Homo sapiens: one gene and its partner. The protein of the gene in region 2 purifies or fractionates together with the protein of the main gene of each other region. This does not show direct contact. Each region holds a gene or a part of one and is shown on either strand. Other genes may lie near its edges. The genes, in order: PHLDB3 and SLITRK6.

Evidence for each region.
Region 1: the proteins of SLITRK6 (region 2) and PHLDB3 purify together in Homo sapiens (affinity purification with mass spectrometry; one large-scale study listed by BioGRID and IntAct). This does not show direct contact.

What each region holds. Positions count from the first base shown.
Region 1 is NC_000019.10:43,487,466-43,491,289, forward strand, and holds part of PHLDB3 (pleckstrin homology-like domain family B member 3), read right to left. Parts: intron 1-3,824.
Region 2 is NC_000013.11:85,796,330-85,800,699, reverse strand, and holds the start of SLITRK6 (SLIT and NTRK-like protein 6 precursor), read left to right. Parts: upstream 1-1,280; 5' UTR 1,281-1,786; intron 1,787-4,167; 5' UTR 4,168-4,191; coding exon 4,192-4,370. UniProt on the Homo sapiens protein: Regulator of neurite outgrowth required for normal hearing and vision.

The DNA of each region.
Region 1 (3,824 bases), on a different chromosome or scaffold from region 2:
TCGGGAGGCTGAGGCAGAAGAATCGCTTGAACCCGGGAGGTGGAGATTGCAATGAGCTGAGATCGCGCCACTGTACTCCAGCCTGGGCGACAGAGCAAGACTCTGTCTCAAAAAAAAAAAAAAAAAACACAGAAAAGAAAAAAAGAAATGTCCGGAACAGGCAAATTAACATAGAAATGGGAAGTAGAATTGTGGTTGCCCGGACTGGGGTAGATCGGGGAACCGAGAGGCTAAGGGATGCAGGGTTTCTTTTGGGGGATAATGAAAATGTTCTAAAATTGATTGTGGTAATGTTTGCGCAACGTTGAATATACTAAAAGACACAGAACTGTACATTTTAAATGAATGAATTGTATAGGGACGTGAATTATGCCTCAATAAAACTCTTTCTAAAAATCCCACTGTGGGCCAGGTGTGGTGGCTCACACCTGTAATCCCAGCACTTTGGGAGGCCGAGGCGGGTGAATAACTTGAGGTCAGGCGTTTGAGACCAGCCAGGCCAACATGGTGAAACCCCGTCTCTACTAAAAATACAAAAATTAGCCAGGTGTGGTGGCACATGCCTGTAATCCCAGCTTTTCAGGAGGCTGAGGCAGGAGAATTGCTTGAACCTGGGAGGCAAAGGTTCCAGTGAGCCGAGATCTCGCCACTGAAATCCAGGCTGGACGACAGAGCGAGACTCTGTCGCAAAAAAAAAAAAGTCCCACTGCAGCCAGGCGCAGTGGCTCACACCTATAATGCCAGCACTTTGAGGCTGAGGCAGGCAAATTGCTTGAGCCCAGGAGTTGGAGATGAGCCTGGGCAACATGGTGAAACTCTGTCTCTACAAAAAAATAGAAAAATTAGCTGGGCATAGTGGCACGTGCCTGCAGTCCCAGCTACTGTGGAGGCTGACGTGGAAGGATCGCTTGAACCCCGGAGGTCAAGGTTGCAGGGAGCTGAGATTGTGCCACTGCGCTCCAGTCTGGGCGACAGAGTGACAGCCTGTCTCAAAAAAAATAAGTAAAACAAAAAAACAAAAAACCCACCGTGCTGGTGGCTATGTAGGAAACCCAGATGCCCTCACATGATACTGGGGGTGTTCTACTGGAACAAGCTTTATGGAGGGCAACTTGGCTTTTTTAAAAAAAATCTGAATGACAAATGCATAAACCATGGAGCCCCAATTCCAATTCTAGAAATTCAGCGGATGGATACACTCATACACATGCAAAGTGATCTGAGTTCAAGGTGATTCCCTGCAGTGCCATCTGTGCTAGCAAAAGCCTGGAGACCACCTAAATGCCCATCAGAAGGGGACAAGGTAAATGAACCATGGCTTATGCACTCCATAGACCATTTTTTTTTTTTTTGAGTTGGAGTCTCACTCTGTTGCCCAGGCTGGAGTGCAGTAGCACAATCTCGGCTCATTGCAACCTCCGCCTCCTGGGTTCAAGCGATTCTTCTGCCTCAGCCTCACGAGTAGCTGGGATTACAGGCATGTGCCACCACGCCAGGCTAATTTTTGTATTTTTAGTAGAGATGGGGTTTCACCATATTGGCCAGGCTGGTCTCGAACTCCTGACTTCAAGTGATCCACCTGCCTCGGCCTCCCAAAGTGCTGGGATTACAGGCGTGAGCCACCGCACCCAAGTGACTCTAAGGACAATTCTGCAGTGTAGAACAAGAGGAAGATGCATCCTACATCCAGGTAGAACATAATATCCAAAAAAGAAAAGAAAAAAAACAGAACATAATATCCAAGAGAAAACCAAGGCCAGGTGTGGTAGCGTGCACCTGTAGTCCCAGCTACTCAGGAGGCTGAGGTGGGAGGATCACTTGAGCCCAGGAGGTTGACCCTGCAGTGAGCCATGATCATGCCACTGCACTCCAGCCTGGGCGACAGTGAGATCTATCTCTTAAAGTTTTTTTTTTTTTTTTTTTAAGCGAGTACAGAACAGCATAGAATAAACTAGGTATGCATAAAAGAGGGAGAAAGTACATACATGACTAGCTGTGTCAACACAGAATATCTCTGGGGAACACATGGGAAATTGGTAACCCTGGTGGCCCTCAGGAAGTGAACAGCGTAGGAGGGGGAACAAGAGCCGCAGAGTCTTCTCTGAATATCCTCCCACACCATGTGAATTTTGAACGAGGAGAATGTTAACTTTTTAAAAGCAAATAAACATGACAACTAAATGCAACCTGTGTTCCTGAGCCAAGAAAAAAAAAGTTTGTTTTTTTTTGTGAATTTTTTGCTAGAAAAAACACTGGTGGGGCCAGGAACAGTGGCTCATGCCTGTAATCCCAGCACTCTGGAAGGCCGAGGCAGGCAGATCACCTGAGGTCAGGAGTTCGAGACCAGCCTGGCCAACATGGTGAAACCCCGTCTCTACTAAAAATACAAAAATAAGCTGGGCGTGGTGGTGGGCACCTGTAATTCCAGCTACTCGGGAGTCTGAGGCAGGAGAATCACTTGAACCAGGGAGGCAGTGGTTGCAGTGAGCCGAGATCACACCACTGCACTCCAGCCTGAGCGGCAGAGCAAGACTCTGCCAAAAAGGAAAAAAAAAAAGAAAGAGCAAGAGAGAGAAAAAGGAAGGAAGGAAGGAAGGAAGGGAAGGAGGAAGGGAGGGAGGGAGGGAAAAACATTGGTGGAACAACTGACAAAATACAAATAAGGTCTGTGGATTCTAATAGTGTTGTCTCAGTGGTAGTTTCCTGAAATCGATCATTGAACTGTGGTTGTGTAAGAGAATGGGCTTGACATTAGGTAGTAAATTTAGGAATATTTAGGGGTTAAGGGGAATCATGGGTAAGAAAATAATGGGCCAGGCATGAAGGCTCACACCTGTAATCCTAGCACTTTGGGAGGTCCAGGGAAGGCAGATCACTTTAGCTCAGGAATTTGAGACCAGACTGGGGCAATATAGTGAGACCCCATGTCTACAAAGAATACAAAAATTAGCCTGGCGCATGTCTGTAATCCCAGCTACTTGGGGGGCTGAGGCAGGAGAATCGCTTGAGTCTGGGAGGTAGAGGCTGCAGTGAGCCAAGATCGCACCATTACACTCCACTCCAGCCTGGGCGACAGAGCGAGACTGTCTCAAAAATTGAAAACTAAAAAAAATAAAAACTCTGGGAGTTGAGAAATGTTAGCTCCACTTCACAGAGAAGAAACTGAGGCTCAAATCCCCGTGCTTTACTTGACTTTTTCCTTCCTTCCAGCCACATTCCCAGCACTTCCTAGCTGGGAGATATTAGATACTTGGCACTGAGGAACCAAGTGGGCAGGTCAGACCCCAGCTTTGTCTGCAGGGCACTTATGTTGTAGGAACTGCATAAGCCATCAGCAGGCCATAGAAACAGGCCGGTTCGGGTTCAAATCCCAGCTCTGCCACTTCCTGGGTGCATGACGTAGGCAAGTCATTTCTCTTCTCAAGCGAGGTGTCCTCTCTGTAAAGTGGGTAACATCTCACTGCCCTTCCTGGGTTGTTGCAAGGATTAAATGAGTGACCTCCTGCAATGCATGTAGAAGCATGCATGGCCCCCAGGTGAGATCCAGGAGCTAAGCAATGATCCACATTGGTGGGTACAGGGTGCACCTGGGCTTAGAGGCCTTCTGTGCACAGGGGCCAACAAGTCAGGTGACAACTCCATAGGACTGGACATGGCGTCCCACCAAATATTTTCATATATGCAATTTACTAATAAGGGTAATTGCTATCCTAAGTCACGTTGCCTGGCAACACAGCTGACACCTACCTTCATCAGGTTTCCAGGGGAAGCAGCCAGAAAGTTAATTTCCCATACAGAAGAACATCTGCTAACCCTTCACCCAA
Region 2 (4,370 bases):
CCTCCTCTGTATCATCATCTCTTTTCCATGTTAAAGCACAAAATGTCATTAAAATAAACGAGAAACTTAATTACTGGGAAATATAAAGTAAAGTGAGAATACTGAAAATTCCCACAGAGCCCTTATGTGTTTAGAGCCAATATACCACCCTGAGACGATAAAACTATATCAATCTGAGTGTATGTCATTAAATAATAATGTGATATTCTTCTATTTTGATGATTTAAACTATATCAACTCTCCTTTTTAAAAACAGCACTTTCTGAAATGACACCTACTATTACATAGAAGGCCTCTAGAATCTGTATTTATTCTAAACAGAATAAACAAATAAAAGACAGCATCTAGTATATGCACTTTGGATGTGAAAAAGTTCAGGAAGGTAGGTAAGAAGAATAACTTTTTAAACCACAGGCTTTTTGAGAAATAAGGAATCTGACAAGAGTAATAATGGTGATGATTCAGAAACTTTTAAGAGCTGAAGAAACACGCAACTTTTAAGATATAACCTATTAAGAATAAATTCTCTCTGAGCTAGCACTATACAAATCAGGTTATTGTAATATCTACATATTTCACTTGTTTCATTTTATCTGTAAAGATATAATGTTATATTTTTGAAAGTGATAAACAGAACTTTATCAATGATAATTATTTTGTGTTTAAAGATTTTTAAATATATTTTAAAATAATTATGCTTTTCTTCTAAATAAATATATTAAAATAACTGAAAGATCTTCATTTCTAAGTTTAATTATTGAATATTAGCTCTAGGGAAAGAAATAATGAAGTAAAAACTTAGAGTCCCTAACATAAGGCTTTAAAAAAGTTAAATGGTGAATACAAAAATACAAATATTGCAGGGAAGCAGTTCGTGTTAACATTTTACAATCTAGTTAGTGCACAATTTCAACTATAAATACCAGATTTAAAAAAAAAAAGAAAAAAAAGAGGCAACTACTCTATAGGCAGCATTCTTGTGTTTCCTGCACACATGTGTGCAAACACTACAGAACAGTGTTAGTTGAGAATTTAACATAACGTATTATTTAGCTTGCTATAACACAATGTACTATTAAGCATTTAAAATGACGTGTTATTATTTCCATCAAAATTCACTTGCACTATATTTGGTATTGAAAGGAGTGGAAAGACCATTTGCAGAAAGAGGAGGAGTTGAGCAGTCCCAAGGTGGAGCTGTCTCTTGTGTTATATGACACTGGCAGATTAAAACGCTCTGATGGGGAAGGGCTTAAAGGCTGAGTCAAAAGCCAAGAAGTCTCTTTATTTACGCCTACCTCCCAGCCCTTGGCAATCTGACTAATAACAAACTGAGCTAACAAGAAATACTAGAAAAGGAGGAAGGAGAACATTGCTGTAGCTTGGATCTACAACCTAAGAAAGCAAGAGTGATCAATCTCAGCTCTGTTAAACATCTTGTTTACTTACTGCATTCAGCAGCTTGCAAATGGTTAACTATATGCAAAAAAGTCAGCATAGCTGTGAAGTATGCCGTGAATTTTAATTGAGGGAAAAAGGGACAATTGCTTCAGGATGCTCTAGTATGCACTCTGCTTGAAATATTTTCAATGAAATGCTCAGTATTCTATCTTTGACCAGAGGTTTTAACTTTATGAAGCTATGGGACTTGACAAAAAGTGATATTTGAGAAGAAAGTACGCAGTGGTTGGTGTTTTCTTTTTTTTAATAAAGGAATTGAATTACTTTGAACACCTCTTCCAGCTGTGCATTACAGATAACGTCAGGAAGAGTCTCTGCTTTACAGGTAAGATGAATGTTTCCAGGCTTTTCTTATACTTATTTTTGCATTATAGTAAAGTGATTGAATTTGTATGTTCGCTTCCTTTAAATAAACAACTTTGCATTAAAGGATACTCAATTTCATTCTTGCTTACTGGCACAACTAACACTGGAGCAGATGCCTGTATTCTCTGAGAAGCAGACATTTAGTCTAACAGCTGGCTACAGAGAAGAACAAATATAATATTCCACTATTTCTTTTGCAACATGCAGTTTGTTGTTAGAAACTAAATATGTGTGCTTTCTGAAGGAAGGATCACTTCCAAATGCGAATGTTGAATTGCAAATATAAGCAGAATATTGAATAATTCTTTGCATTTTGTATGCTACTTATTTTCTGATTTGAAAATACGTATTCTCAGAAAACATGTCAATGAGTATCTTTTGACCTCTTTACCACTGTATCAGATATTGTCAGTAGAGAACCACTTTTCACATCTGTGTGTGTTTCTGAAAAGATTAGAAACTGTTTCCTAGCACGTTTTGAAGAGCATAAAATTCATACAGGATTTACAAAATAACAAGAGTTTATCACTGAAAAATTATTTACTATTTTCTCTGATGCTATACCTGGTGAAATAAATCTTATTCTTTCTTGGTAATTTATGAATAAGTACTTTTAGTGATTGTGGAAGCTAATCCACAAGTTGAAGACTCCAACTACAAGCTGCTTGTTTATAAACTCAGCACACAAAGCTGTTTAAAATCAAATTATTTACCTACAGAAAAATAAAATCTTCTAACTTTCCCTTTACACAGAGGCAGTATGTTGTTTTGTTTCTTCAGTTGCCTTTTGCCTTTCAGGAACTTTGTACTATATGTGTTTTCAATAAAACACTATGTTTTCAGGGAATGCAAGTTTACTTTCAGGATTGTTGATTGGGTTCTGGTATGTTTTACCTGATTGTGAATTTTAATTTGATTCAGTTACTGTTCATATTTCAAACAACAAAAATGAAAACTGATTACTATTTTGAAAAGTTGAATAGTCATAAGATGTGTTTATATTTCAATTTAGTTTATATAAGTTTAAAGTATAATATTTAAAGGAAGGAAATAAAATTAGATCTCATTAGAGCTATAAATGTTTACCTTGCATAACTGTCATTTAAAGGGCAAAACCTTTTTAAGAATTGCTGTTTCAGATGCATTTGTTATGTGTTTCAGGATTAGAATACGTGATGTTATTCTGAACCATCCTTTTTTTCTTTTACTGAATTTGAAATATCATCAAAAAGTTTAATATGGTACAGTTTGTTTCAGATTTCATTGTTTGCGACTTTAAGCCTTTTAATAAAGGCTTAAAGCTGCTTAATTATGTGATGACATTCCGTGCCCTAAAGACTGTTTCAAGACCTCATTAGGAAGTCATTTGCTAGAAGTTTATATGAAGCATTGTTTATTCTTTTACAACAGCCTGAAATGTGTGTTAAAGATTAATCTTGCTTCTTTAGTTTTTATCATTTCCACCTCATCTATAACGTAATTAAGAAGCAGTAAGCAATATACTGCTTCTAGAAATTCAATATTAAATATAATGATTTAAGTGAAATTTGAATGGTCACACTTAAGTGTATGTATCTGATACTATTACGCTTATACAAACTACCCTTGATTGAATAGTTAAAAGAGTTCTTATAGTACTGTACTTTATAACATGATCAAAGACGCATTTTCCTCAAGGTTTTCAAAATAAACAATAAAATTAGTATATATATATATATATAGCCAAAACCGAAGCAGGTTAAAACACAGACACAGTTATTAGATGTTATTGTGTGACACCCAGTTCAACAATATAAAGACAATGCATGCTACATGCGTACATGCATACACACATACACATATGCACACATACATTCTTTTATCATTTTTTACATTCCCTACAGTTCTCTATGCTTACGGCTAATAACTATGTAATTGTCTTTTACTATAATCCTCCAGCCTTAAATGTATGACCATAAGGTTAAAAAATATTTTCAAATATATAACTTTGCATCACAGTGAAGTATCAGTGCTCTAAGGCAGCATCTCTCTCATCTGTTAAAATGCAGGTTATTCATCAGATGTGAGCACAAATTTTATGATATAATATTTTAAATCCCCCTTGACCTAAATTTTATATTTTGAACACAATGCAAGTTAAAAGTCAGCCAGACTTGCCTGTCTGAGTATTAGGAAAAAAAAAAAAGAAACAAATGATGTAAATGCAGCAAGGTACCCATATTTTCATGGTAATCCGTCATTTGCTTTTTGGAGAAAAACCTATTATTTTGAAAATATCAGCTTCATCTCCTCCCCAGTTCTGCCCACTAAAGTCCCTTGCTATTGCGTTTTATTTTACAGAATCGGATTTCATCACATGACAACATGAAGCTGTGGATTCATCTCTTTTATTCATCTCTCCTTGCCTGTATATCTTTACACTCCCAAACTCCAGTGCTCTCATCCAGAGGCTCTTGTGATTCTCTTTGCAATTGTGAGGAAAAAGATGGCACAATGCTAATAAATTGTGAAGCAAAAGGTATCAAGATGGTATCTGAAATAAG